Homo sapiens: one gene and its partner. The protein of the gene in region 1 purifies or fractionates together with the protein of each later gene. This does not show direct contact. Each region holds a gene or a part of one and is shown on either strand. Other genes may lie near its edges. The genes, in order: SYTL5 and LIMCH1.

What was found.
Region 2: the proteins of SYTL5 (region 1) and LIMCH1 purify together in Homo sapiens (affinity purification with mass spectrometry; one large-scale study listed by BioGRID and IntAct). This does not show direct contact.

Annotation. Positions count from the first base shown.
Region 1 is NC_000023.11:38,012,907-38,016,729, forward strand, and holds part of SYTL5 (synaptotagmin-like protein 5), read left to right. Parts: intron 1-3,823. UniProt on the Homo sapiens protein: May act as Rab effector protein and play a role in vesicle trafficking. Binds phospholipids.
Region 2 is NC_000004.12:41,536,908-41,541,174, forward strand, and holds the start of LIMCH1 (LIM and calponin homology domains-containing protein 1), read left to right. Parts: upstream 1-1,249; 5' UTR 1,250-1,443; intron 1,444-4,267.

The DNA of each region.
Region 1 (3,823 bases):
ATTTTTAAGTTGCATATTTTGACTAGAACTAGATATGTACTAAAAAACCATTTTGTGATGAAGAATCACTTCCCACTAATTGAGAGACCAGCACAGGGAGAATACTATTGATCTTAAATACAAGGAAGTCCAGACATTAATATGGAAAAAATATAGATTGGGATGTCCTGTTTGCATTAGCCATGTTCAAGAAGGAAGAATTTAATTTGCTTTGAACTACTCACAGCTGCCATCTAATTATTTTTGTTGACTGTTACAGAGTTTGAGCTCCAAACACAGGAAGGTTATTTCTAAATCAGTTATACACAACAACCAAACAGCTATTGATTTTCTTTCAAGTGAATTCCCATCTGACTCTTATTGTTCTTGTGAATAATAGTCATATGTATGGCTTTATACTTAAGCACAATAGGATATAACTAAATATTGGCTCAACTCAGACCTAAAGAGTAGGTTCCTGAACAGTGAGAATATCATCTAGTGATAATCTTTCACTGCTTATACTGGGAAAAATGTTGAACCTGGGTCAGCAAACATGAAATGTAGGTTCAGTACTGCTCCTAATGATAATGCCAAAGGCTCACACTTTCTGAGGATTTACCGTGACTCAAGAACTATTCAAGTGTTTTCTATGTAACCAAGGCATACAGAGGTTCAGTCATGTTTCTCAGAAATTTTAGAGCCAAGATTTAAACCAGAGTTCCTGCTTTGTACCAGAGTCACTTTGGTCAGCTTAAGTAACTTCCAAAGGCATCTTCCTGGGGTATTTTTTCCTGCTGCACCAATTTTTACCTTTCTTCCTGATTCTCAGGCTCACTCAATCTATACTGGTATCTGCGAACCTGTCACTGACCTCACCCCATCTCCAGCATCTCACTGATTGGTTTCCTCTCCATGATCTTTTCTTAAGGGGACCCTGCATTCTTTGGGCCCCTCATCATTACTCAAGGCCCCTAGATCTACTGGCCCCCTCAGTCCTCCTAGTCCCTCAACCACCACCAACTCCTCCTCTCCTAGCTTAGCTCCCCCATTCCTGCTCACAGGAGCCAGGTAGCATCAGGACCTCCCCAATCTCATTTTCCTCTCTACCCTCTCCACACTCTGACTACTGTTTCAGCTTTTATTTCTTTCTTTAGTCAGGGCAATCTGCTCTGATGTCATATCCTACATCCTCTCTACACTGTCATAATAAAACTCTTTTGGTATGTACAAGTGTGTACCCTCCAAAGCAGGAGTGCTGGGCACTGGTATAAATTTGACCAATACAAAATTAAACACACACACACACCTGTGTGTTATGTTGTATATTATGTTATATATAATATTGTTGTGTGTGTACATATATGTTATATGTATGTATATTTAATTCTACAGTATATTATAGTGGTCAAGAGCACAGTCAATAGAGTCAGACCCCTTAGTCAGAATCCAGCTTCACCACTTACAAGCTGTGTAACACTGGACAAGTTACTTAACCTCCCTCTGCCTTGGTTTTCCTACCTGTAATATGGGAATAGTGAAAGTATCTAAATCAAATAATTGATATTGTAAACCAAAAGGTATCTGAGACAGGTCTCAATCAATTTACAAAGTTTATTTTGCCAAGATTATGGATGTGCCAGTGATACAGCCTCAGGAGGTCCTGACGACATGTGCCCAAGGTGATTGGGACACAGCTTGGTTTTATACATTTTAGGGAGCCGTGAGACATCAATCAGTATAGGTAAGATGAACATTGGTTCAGTCAAGAAAGGCGGGACAACTCTAAGCAGGGAGGGGGCTTCCAGGTCACAGGTAGATAGGAGACAAATGGTTGCATTCTTTTGATATTTTGATAAGCACAATTTACAGGAATAGTCACTTATGCCTTAGTCTGGCTTAGTGAAAAAACAGGGCAAAGGAAGCAATCAGATACACATTTGTCTTCTGTGACAGAGGGATGACTTTGAGTTCTCCCTGTCCTTTGTCCACAAGAAATTTCCCTGTGAGAAAAATTGTGAGGGAGGTATGTAGCTTTTTTATCTTTGTAGGTATCTTATTTAGGAATAGAATGGGAGGCAGGTTTGCCCAATGCAGTTCCCAGCTTGACTTTTCCCTTCGGCTTAGTGATTTTGGGGTCCAGAGATTTATTTTCCTTTCACAATGTAAAGATTGTACTGTTCATATATGTAAATCAAGAATTCATAACAGGGCCTGAAACTTGTATATAAGTGCTGAGTGTTCACTATCATTATTACCATGACTCATAAGGAAAAAGCATTAAGGCAAGTATAATAATGGAGCAGGAAATATACATTTAAGTGGAAAATATAGTACAACATGGATAATATGACATGTGTGATTAATTACGACTTGAATAATGCGAAGCATGTAATTATTTTTGGCTTTGCATTTGATATCTGAGGAATCCCACCATTTCACATGAAAAAGTGCATGTGACAAGGAATCTTCCAGGAATTTTGCATTAGAAGTTCCTTTTGATCCTCCTCAAAACCCTGTGAAGTTAGTACTATTATTATCTCCACCCTGTATGAAAAGAAACCAAGGTTCAGAGAGGTTAAGTAACTTAGTTTCTGTAACATAGTAATTGCCAAAGCTAGGATTTGAATGCAGAGCTTCCTGACTCCAAAACCTGACTCTTTGCAATTCTCCACTTGAGGTGTCCATTGGAACCCCATAGGACGTTAAAAAAAATCCATGGAACACAAACTCAAGAGATTCTGTTTTTTTGAAAAGCAGCTTTTGTGAGATATAATGTACATACTGTACAATTCACCCATTTGAAGTGTACAATTCAATGTTTTTTTTTTTTTAGTCTATTCACAGTGCGTTTAGCCATCACCACAATCTAATTTCAGAACACTTTCGCTCTGGGCGGGCATGTCCACAGAATCCCTGGGGTCTTAATTTCAAAGCCACAGACCTTGTAGGAGTCTTGAATGAACTTCAAATGATTTGTGAACTTTTTCTAGGATCCACAGCTTTCACTATCTTCTCTAAAGTGATAAAAATATAAGCCAAAAATGTATTAAGAAACTCTAGACCAGAATGGCCTTGAACTTTAAGGTACAAATCACTGGGGGACCTTGTTAAAATTTAGATTCAAATTCAGTAGCTCTGGAATGCGCTAGGCCTACTATCATTAATTTTAATGATAGGAATGCTCACTTTAAGTTAGATGTTATGTGCCCTAAAATTCCATTCTTCTCTTTAGTAGATCTATGCTATGAAATAACTGCACTCAATTATTATTGTTATATTTTTAATGTCATCGGTAAAATATTGGCAGACATTTATTTTCTTGATTGATGCATACTTATCCACAAAATAGCTATGGTTTTGGCTCTTGGCGCAAAAAGTCTAAAATATTTACTAATTGTTCCTTAATAGAAAAAGTTTGCCAACCTCTAATATAGACCATGGGGGAAAGCCACCTTTAAGGAGCAGAAATGTTGTTCATCTTACTCTCCACAGCTCCTTGCTACATGTGGCAGACATGACATTATCAATCAGACTTATAGGAATCCTAACCAAGTATGAGGGGCAGCAAGCTGGCTATATTTATGTATAACTCCTCCTCTAGAGGAGAAATCTGGGCAGATGAGGGTCAACTTCACTTTTAGTTTAAAAATACATCTCCCTAGAGCTTCAAGCTGCTCTCCTGGGTGATAGCATGGGTGGGTGTCCACAAAAGACCTTCATGCATTTTCAGTTAGGTCATGTCTCTATGATCTTGGAAGCAAGATTCCCTAAGAGTAGTCTGCAATCCATATAGAGAGCTTGGTTAATTGGGTTTGGATGATGGTTCACCAAACGTACAGGT
Region 2 (4,267 bases), on another chromosome or scaffold:
GTGTTTATTTCTTAACTGTGATAAATGTAGATGTACCATAGGAATGTAAGATGTAAGACATGAGTTATACTGAAACTCTGCATATTATCTTTGTAGCTTTCTATAAATCTAAAAACTATTCTAAAATAAAAAGTTCACTTAAAGTAGGATGAATGACAATAAAGATAAAAGAGCATAATGCAAGGAAACTATGAAATAGGTAAGGAAATACAGAAGTTATTAATAAATATTAAATGTCAGCCTACCACTTGATGTATTTGTGTCAATAAATGGCAGGATACCAGTGAGTCCATTGGCATATTAATCCAATAAACTTTTATAAATGATGAATTGGTTGTAAACATTGTGTTTTATAGCATTTGAAAATTCCAAATGGTAACTCCGCACACGATGCTTCTGCTCACATATTTCAGCATCCTGCTTTTAGAATCTGCAGAAAGAAATAGTTCATGTCCTTTAGGGAGGTTTAATAAAAAGCAACAGGTGGAAAATGGATTTTGCAGTAGCATGAACAGCCATAACCATAAATACTAGTACCTCAGAATTATACCAGCAGAGGACTGTAAACACATTAATCTCCCAGCAGTGCAGAAATTCCATTCTCAGATGTCATCTCAATTTCAGGCACAAAGATTGAATGCCTCCATTTAAATTCAAAACACTGAAGGAATATGATGATCCTTTTTTTTCATGGGGATTCATGGAGTGAGTTTGCCAGTTTCCTCATCTATAAGATGGGGTTGATAAATCCCATCTCAGCATTGTGGGATTAAATGAGATGATATACATAAAATACCTAATATGATGGATGGTACACAGGATGTTTTCAATAAATGGTAGTTTACTTTTTATTATGCTCATGAACATTAGGATGGTCTTAGAATCCCAGAACTAGAAGCCACTTAGAGATTTACTTTTTGAAACATTGTTATTTTACAAATAAGGAAACTGAGACCAGAAGGCAGTGACTTGCCTGGAGTCAGGCAGCAACTTTGTTCCAGAGTTGGGACTGGAGTGAGTCTTTGTTCCTCGGGTCCCACTTGGGTGCTTTTTCTAGATCCAGATTTCCTGACAGTACTGCAAACCTACTGTGTGCTAGTGGCTGACACAAAGCTCTCTGCACAATTCCAATCCTGGCATCTCTACTTCTGAAGATGCCATTCCTTTTCCTCAGAGGGAATGGGCTTCTCCGCCTCCCTCTCCAATAGGTGTGGCAATCAGCTGTCTTCCAGTTCCCTTTCACTGCATCAGCATTTCAGCCGCAGCAGCCTGCTTGTGGACAGAGCAGGGGTTGGCAGTGGTGACGACTGTTTTGGGAAAGGAAATGTAAGGGCATTTCGGCTGCTGTGCTGGGGCTGACGAGGAGCACACAGGAGAGATGCCCCTCCCATCTCCCAGAGTGGGTTGGCTGGAGTTCATTGCGGAGCATGAGGACGTGTGGGGGTAAGTAAAATTCATTATAAAAGAAATACATGCTTAGGGGTATCCATGATGGAAAGAAGGAAGCTATTTAGACTTTAATACTTGGTTTAAAAAAAAGTGACTTTTTATTCACTTATTAGTATGGCGAAAATAATATGAAAATTACTTTCCTGTGGATTCATCTTGTCCTTTGATAACTGTTAGCACCTGTTGCTTTTAATTAAGCTTTTTTTTTTTTTTAATTCCCTAAGGAAAGCATTGTTTTTTATTTTCCGGTATGTGGTACAAGACACATAACTCCATTAGTTTAGTCAAAATAAAAAGGATTTTTGAGAATTTTGAGAATGAGAAGCAACTTGGCTGCATTTTTAAGATGTGGTCCAGCAGCACATGGTGTTGTGGGGGAGATGTGGCTGCATTCATGGTGGGGCTGCTTCACCTGAGCCCCTGTCACATTCTGCTCCTGACTCCACAGCCCCCTTTGCTTTTTAAAAACTTCCATTTCTTAAAATGAGGAGGAAAAGAAGCAAGGAAGACATTGGGGAGGCAGGGAGGAGTCTGGAGGGAAGGGCTGCATCTCCAGCCTTGCCCACTTAGTCCTTGTCCTTCATAGTCACTATTTACTGCAGGCCGGGAAAGGAATGGGGGTTATTTCTGGACAATTGTCTCATAAAATCCCGTCAGACCCGTCTGAATGCTAAACGTTCCATGGCACTGGTTATCTAGGGGAAGAAAATTTTCCTTAGCCAAATTTATGAGGCTGGGTTGAAAATCAGGTTGAAACAGAGCCTGGCGAATCCCTATGGCAAAATGATTCATCTTTGTGGAGTCGGGAAATCTATTTTTATCACCTTTATTCAGCCAGCTCCTGATTGTGATTCTCTCACTGAGCTACAGCCGTTTTCTTCATGGTGCTGAATAGACCAAATGTCTCAGGAGTCTGAAACTTCTCTCCTGCCACTCCCAGAGTGGCTGATTCAGCAGTCCCGGGAGAAGGGGTTTGTCCTGTGCTGCGCGGGTGGGTTCCGCACAAGGTGAAGGTCAAATAAAACCGAGAGGCTGCAAGTGTCAGCAGCCAGCCTTTGACTCAGGAATCCTGCCTGAGGGTATGTGCCACTCTGCTCTCCTGCTCTCTCTGTAAGGTGACTAGAAGGTGACTGGGCAGCCATAACTCCTCCAATTTTGAAGACCTTCCCAAGGGAAGAAGGGGCAAGAATAAGCCACCCTCCTTACAGCTGCCAATACATCTCCTCAATCTAATCATCGGGCAGAGAGGGACTTCCTAACACCGTTGTATTCATTTTCCCATTTCCATTTAGTTCTGTAACTATGCATTCCAGGCTGATACATAGTCCTAGCTGGTTCTTGCTGGAGTCCCAACTAATGCTGAGAGGAGTGGCAATTGTTCTCTATAATAAAGTTTAAAGGATAAAGATATGGAAGAAGAACTCACTCTTGAGTTTCCTTTTCTAATGGATTCAGCATGCTTACTCTCTGGGAGCTATAACAAATGGCAATTAGGAAAGCAACAGGAATGTTGACTAGACAGGAACAGTGACCATGGCTGTTGGGGGTATTCCCTGCACCTGGTATATAGTAGACACTCAATAACAATTTGGGAAATGAATGACCAGGATACTGTTCCCCATAGGCTTCAGTTGGCCTTCTTAAGAGCTCTCCTTCAGGACATAGTATGCAGGGCAGCTAGGAGCTGACATTCTAGAGTGAGATGGCCTGAGTTCAAATCCTGGATTTGCAGCTTCTCAGTTGTGTGCTGATCTTTGGCAGGCAACACAATCGTTTGTTTCCTCGTCTGTAAAAATGGACATAATATAGTAACTACCTTATGTGGTTTTCATGAAGAGTAAATTAATTAATATAGGTAAAGAGTCTAGATTTTTTTTTCTTGTCATGTGGTTCAAGATATGAAGAAGAAGAAAAACAGGAGTAGGAAAAGAAGGAGAAAGAGGAGGAGGAGGAACTTTGGCTGTTGGGATAAATTTGGGACCCTTTGAGATTTTGGCCCTGCCTTTTAGGTTGAATATTTCCCTAAAATCATGATTCAGTGATTTTTAAACCTTCTCTTGTCCTGTAGAGAGAATAATTTGAGAATAAAAGAATAAAACGGGCCAGATGCAGTGGCTTACGCCTGTAATCCTAGCACTTTGGGAGGCTGAGGCAGGTGGATCACCTGAGATCAGGCGTTCGAGACCAGCCTGGCCAACGTGGCGAAACTCTATCTCTACTAAAAATACAAAAGTTAGCCGGGTGTGGTGATGGGCACCTGTAATCCCAGCTATTCAGGAGGCTGAGGCAGGAGAATCGCTTGAACCCGGGAGGTGGAGGTTACAGTGAGCTGAGATCGCACCACTGCACTCTAGCCTGAAAAGAAAAAAAAAGAATAATAAAATGGATTTCAGGGGGAAAATGATGACGAATTATTGCCAAGAGTTATTGAACTCCTGCTCCTTGCCAGGTACTAACCATATTCAGTGTTGAAACAAACTGTCAGTCCTTGCCCTGATGGACGCTGCAGTTGACTTTCAAGGGCTGCTGGGCAGTGTGAATTCAATGGCTCAGCGAACACAGCTGCTACGTTCCTTGTTCTCTACCTTTTAAAAAGGAATGTTGAGTAGATCTAGAAGGATGAAGCTTTAAACTTAGCTCCCAACAGGAAATGAGGAGTGAGGAAGTAGGGAGAGATTTGTGTGTGTGTGGAGTAGCAGATGAAGTCTAACTGTACAGCAGTATAAAGGCAGTGAAAGAAATGTAGACGTGGGCATTGGATTGAACCATGAAACTGAAGGGAAATCCAAAGCAGTAATGTATCATCAACCTGTGAAAT